Linked DNA regions of Homo sapiens: region 1 is linked to region 2. The links come from fine-mapping of genetic effects on gene expression. A gene starts in region 2. The other region holds a variant in brackets. All regions are shown on one strand. Distances are between the middles of the regions.

Region 1 (2,500 bases), 25 kb after region 2:
AATCTAAGCCAGACTTTTCCTGTTCCCAGAGGATAACCTCTTCATTCATGCATCCACACCAGTGCTGGCCACTACTGCTCACCTCCCCATAATAGAAGCACAGCAGGAGCAGAGCTTGGGACTCTAACCCATGGACATATATGTTTTGTGCTACAGTAGCCTATTTACCACAGAGAATTCTGTTACTGATAGCTCTCTAACACATGCCTTTCCCACATCTAGAATACACTGCTAGATTCCCTAAGGATGGCCCTGAAGTAGTATAAAATCTGGGGTGCCTCTGAAATCATCAAAAATTCACTTATATTTAATAGGTCCATTAGGTCTATTCCATAGTATTCCTTGAGAAACAGATGGTCACAGGTAATCTTCATTAAACAGGTATTTATTGAACAACTACTTTGTGAGTGCAGAACTGAAAGATTCAGTGTTTGCCCCCAAGGAACTCACTGTCTAGTGAGGCAGACGTCAAGAAAACCAGTATTGATTGCACTGCTGTAGGAATACTGTGATTCAGAAAAGCCCAGGTTGGACATAAGGCAGGACAGCGCCCCTATAAATCCCATTCAATGCAACAGCAGTGTCTCCTGTGGAAATCATAATGACAGTTCATACATAACCAGATTTAGATCAATGACAGAGGGCTTAATGTACATATAGTTAAGCATCCCATAGAGAAACCACTTGCTACACGAACAGACACAATTTCCTATCTGTTGTTTACCCTTTCAGGAAATTACACTAGATTGGTCTTACAGTTTGAGCTTCGGAGGAATGTTCTGTATTTCATTTTGGAAACCTACGTTCCTTCCACTTTCCTGGTGGTGTTGTCCTGGGTTTCATTTTGGATCTCTCTCGATTCAGTCCCTGCAAGAACCTGCATTGGTAAGCAGCTCCAACAGGAGATTTCTAAGAACTGGCTTATCAGGTTACTTACTTTTTTTCCTTTTACCATTGTCTTCATTGATATTCCTAAG[G/C]CAGTTCCAAGAGTTGTTTTCTTGGGAGATTCTTTTACAGAGAAAGAAAGAGAGAGACAGAAAGAGACTACTTTAGGATTCTGGGTTTTTTGTTGTTGTTTTTTTTTTGGAGACAGAATTTCACTCTTGTTGCCCAGGTTGGAGTGGACTGGCGTGATCTCGGCTCACTGCAACCTCTGCCTTCCAGGTTCAAGTGACTCTCCTGCCTTATCATCCCAGGTAGCTGGGACTACAGGCATGTGCCATGATGCCCAACTTATTTTTGTATTTTTAGTAGAGATGGGGTTTCACCACGTTGCCCAGGCTGGTCCTGAACTCCTGACCTCAAGTGATCTGCCCACCTTGGCCTCCCAAAGTGCTGGGATTACAGGTGTGAGCCACTATGCCCTGCCAGGAGTGGTGCATTTTTAAACTTAAGTTTTACAGTGACAAGTAAGGGATCATTGTGCTTAGATGGTCTATTGTCAGTTCTTTTGCATATTTATCACCCCCTCCCAGGAGAAGACAGAACGTGAAACATTAAAAAAAAACACATCCCTCATATCTGTACAAAATGGACAAATCAACCCTATTCTAGAAGGTCGCAGACTTTTCAAAATGAGATGCATTCCATTTCTGGGTCTTGCCCTCACCCTGCCAATTCTCAAATGGGGACACTCTGCCAGGCTATGGTGGAGGACTAACCAGTCACTTTGTAGGAACATCCCCTGCCTGTTTTCCCAGGAGTGACGACCGTGTTATCAATGACCACACTGATGATCGGGTCCCGCACTTCTCTTCCCAACACCAACTGCTTCATCAAGGCCATCGATGTGTACCTGGGGATCTGCTTTAGCTTTGTGTTTGGGGCCTTGCTAGAATATGCAGTTGCTCACTACAGTTCCTTACAGCAGATGGCAGCCAAAGATAGGGTAAGAGTCTTGAGGGCCCTGTGTATGATCCATCACTGGTGCCGTGTGCTGATCTGTAGACATGGGCTGGACCTGGCTTCTATCCCCACCCCACCCGCAGTGATTCCCTGTGCTCCAGTGAGTCTTATCCTTGTTCAGGTGGGAGCAGCTGGAAGTCATGGTGCCCCTTGAAAAAGACCATTCTTTTCACCAAATACAATGAGATATTAATATGTTTAATTTTCCAGCAGAAAATATGTTATCTGTATGCAGCATAAAATCACAACCACAGGAGCAAGCATCCATGAAGAATCCAATATGAAAAAAACATGATCAGCTGCTTGCAAGTTTTATATTAATATATATTTACTATTTAATTCTTTTGTTGCATTATTTTGTCCTTAAATTATACAAGTAATGCTTTACTGAAAAATGTATGGAAATATTAGATTGTGACAAATTTCTTGGTGAGCATATTTTTCTGCTAATTGAGAAAAACTGTCATTATTTGGTTTAGCAATGGAACACTATAGTCCAGCTCTCTAAATAATAATAATAGTCATTATTTATCAAGCATTTACATGTGCCAGACACAGTAACAAGCCTTTTGCAAATACTATATTATTTTAAATG
Region 2 (3,024 bases):
CTGTTCCTGGGTCAGAGGAAACCCTCCCACCCCCACCTCCCAGCTCTGAATTGTCTTTATTACTCTGGAGCCTTTGTTCTGTGTGAGAATATCTTAGGCTTTTTGAGAAAAGCCCCAGATCACTGTCTATTCATTGAGAACCTGAAACCGGCTCCTCAGCCATTCCTGCTCTAGCCACCAGCAAGGTTCCCAAGTGAAAGTGAGTCCTCTCAGGAGAAATGAAAGCGCTGTCTCTTTAGGTGCCCACTCCTTACCCACCAGCGGAGCAATGTTTTCCAGGCTGGCCAGGCTCCAGAAGCTCACTAAGGAAGTTGGCTTGGGGCCAAAGGCATCTATGGTTCATTGTACACTGTGGCCCTCCCCTTCCTGCCCCTCCATTTGCTCCCCTTCCTTTCTCTCTCTCCCTTCCCGGCTCCTAGACTGGGTCTAGGCAGGAGCTTCGCCATGATGTCAGGAGGGAAGGAGATGCCTCTGGGCCTCGTACCACAGCCTCAGCTCTCTCTCTGCCCCTCCATCTGAGTCCCTCCTGGCTCCCAGCTCCCTCAGGGTGCAAGGCCAAGCCTCCAAGGAATCCCTCCCCTTACCTGCATGGCTGGAGCCAAGAGTGAGTTTGGGGCCACTGGCTATGATGAGGGGATGACCCAGAGCTCAGTGAGCACTGTCGAAGCACTTCTGTTAGGAGGTTTGGTTGGCCAGGGAGGAAGAAGGCCTCCCTCTCTGGGATGCTCCTGAAAGGACTCTGTGGGAAGTTAAAGAATCCTCTGTGTGAGAGCAGGATGGGGGAAGGTGGAGGGTTGGAGAAATCCAGCCCAGTGTCTCTGTGTCTCCCCGCCTCCTCCTCCTGGGCCTCTATCCTCTGTGCTCTTGGCCTCTATGAGTCTTTTTGAAACTTCCCAGGCTGGAAAGCACTAGGTCCTGGGATATGAAAGTCTCTTTTAACATAGAATAGGCCTTCTGTTGATCCCAAAGATGCTCTTAAAATACACAACAAGAAATCGGAGTTTTACACACAGTCAGCTTCTCATTTTATAGATGGGAAGCTGAGGCCTAAGGAGGTGAAGTGGCCACTATAGCCATTCCATTGCACCAGGGTGGAGGGCTGTCCACCAAATTCAGAGCCCGGCATAGTGGGTGGGGGTCACCCACTTTATCTGACTCTCATGGGTCCTTGATCTCAGGGGTCTTTTCTGGCAGAGGTCTGGGAGCATGACTGAGACATGATCTCAGAATCAAACCCCTGGAGGCAGTAGCTATAGCAGGAGCTGACGATCTCCAGAAACTCAGGACCAGACGATCTCCAGACACTCAGGACAAGTCAGTGTCCCCACCAAGGATGGGGCTTTGAGAGGCTCCGCCCACCTCTGTTTCTGCACAGCAGGTTTAGCAGCTCCATTCTTCCCCAGAGAGCCACTCCATCTGAGGGTGGCTGCGTGTCCACATACGAGGGGACAGGGCTGAGGATGAGGAGAACCCTGGGGACCCAGAAGACCGTGCCTTGCCTGGAAGTCCTGCCTGTAGGCCTGAAGGACTTGCCCTAACAGAGCCTCAACAACTACCTGGTAAGGAAACTGCTGGCCCCTCCAGGTGTCTGGAGAGAGGGGAGGGAGGGAGATCCAAATACAAGCCCTGCTGGGACCGAGGGAGGGGGCAGGCCTGGACTCTGCTGAACACCTAATGAGCATCAGGGAGCGCCACTGCAGGACGAGCAGCAGAGCCAAGATTAGAGCCCCTGCTGTCCTCACTACAGCCACAGTCATTCACCCCTGTGCAGCAGCTGGCCAAGACCAGCAGACACAGGGCACGCGCCGCACCACTTTATCTTCTGGGATTTTCTTAAGCGGGACCCATGGCAATAATGCCTTTCCTCACCTTAACCTAATTCGGGCTCTACTCCTGCTTTCCAACAAATGATTCTGTCTATGCTGAAGTGATAAGGATAGGAAAACTGTGCCTGCATAGGAAGGAAGCTGGAGGTGACAAGTTGGGGTTGGGGGTCACTGTATTTACATGGTAGAAATTCTGGGAATAGAGTAGAAACGGTAGTAGAAACTTGCACATATTGGAATTATTTCTGCTTCCAGCCTGGGAAGTTTTCAAAAGAGACATAGAGGCCAAGAGCACGGAGTATAGAAGCCCAGTAGGCCAAGCCAGGAAGAGGCGGGGGAGACTGGGAGACATTAGGCTGGATTTCTGGTTTAGAAAAAGGTGCCATCAGCTCCCTATGTGACCTTAATGCCCTGTGCCTGACCCTGTACTTCCTGAGGTGGTGCCAGTTAGCTCACACTCTGAGTGGCACCTGGGGTGTATATAGAAATAGAAAGAGCTTGAGATTTGGGTTCTATTAGTCATAGTGGAATCACTGAATTCCCATGGAAGACACGGAAGGCAGAGGAGAATGAAAACTAATGTTTATTGAATGCTTTCTATTCCCATTTGTCAGATGGGAAAACTGAGACTCTGAGAGGTTAAATGACTCGGGTGTATCAGGATCCAGAGCTCAAGGTCTCCTCTACAAGTGGAGGTAGGAGCTTGGCCAGAGATGCCCTCGGGGCAGGATAATGCATAGGCTGCCCCTACTCAGGAGCCTCCTAGGGCCTCCTGAGCACCATGTCCCTGCAGATGCAGAAGGCTAGGTGGTTCCAGTCAACATCTGTGTTGCAGCTTTGGGGACAACCCTTAGGACACTGCTCTCTGGTGGCTCAGTACCTCTCCACTAAATTCCATCCCCCAGCACCTGTACCAGAACTGGTGGCCTGAGCCTCCATTGAGGCTGGCCGACACATAAATAGCCACTTAACGATTGGCTCGTCTACCACAGGGAGTGATGGCATCAGCTGCACTTGTCACTTGGGATGTGCTGCGGATGCAACACTCCATCCCCCAGATGGGTTTGGTATAAAAAGGACAAGATTCAAGTGGAATCCAGTTCAGCTTGGGGGTGCTGAAGGCCCTCCTCCTAAATGCAGGGCAAAGAAAAGGGACTTGGAAAACAGATTTAAATCATGCCACTTAACTGTGTGACCT

Alleles and levels. Positions count from the first base shown, and alleles are read on the strand shown. Sizes are in standard deviations (SD) of each study's normalised expression.
For the expression in tibial nerve of the gene that starts at base 1,410 in region 2, C is the high allele of the variant in region 1 and G is the other (small effect, 0.28 SD a copy in GTEx).

What was found. PIP is the estimated chance that this variant, and not a neighbour inherited with it, causes the effect. A credible set is the group of variants that fine-mapping cannot tell apart.
Region 1: its variant is the best candidate, but not a certain one, in a credible set for the expression of GABRP in tibial nerve (GTEx, PIP 0.55).

The regions. Positions count from the first base shown.
Region 1 is chr5:170,807,868-170,810,367 of GRCh38, forward strand. GABRP (gamma-aminobutyric acid type A receptor subunit pi) reads left to right here. Exons shown (of 10, transcript NM_014211.3): 8 at 733-885; 9 at 1,701-1,888. Among named protein-coding and RNA genes, the nearest start is that of GABRP, 25 kb to the left of the region's middle. The variant G/C (reference allele first, on the strand shown) is at 978.
Region 2 is chr5:170,782,316-170,785,339 of GRCh38, forward strand. GABRP (gamma-aminobutyric acid type A receptor subunit pi) reads left to right here and starts at 1,410. Exons shown (of 10, transcript NM_014211.3): 1 at 1,410-1,559. It overlaps LOC107986475 (a long non-coding RNA gene), which reads right to left and starts at 741. Exons shown (of 2, transcript XR_001742978.3): 1 at 1-741.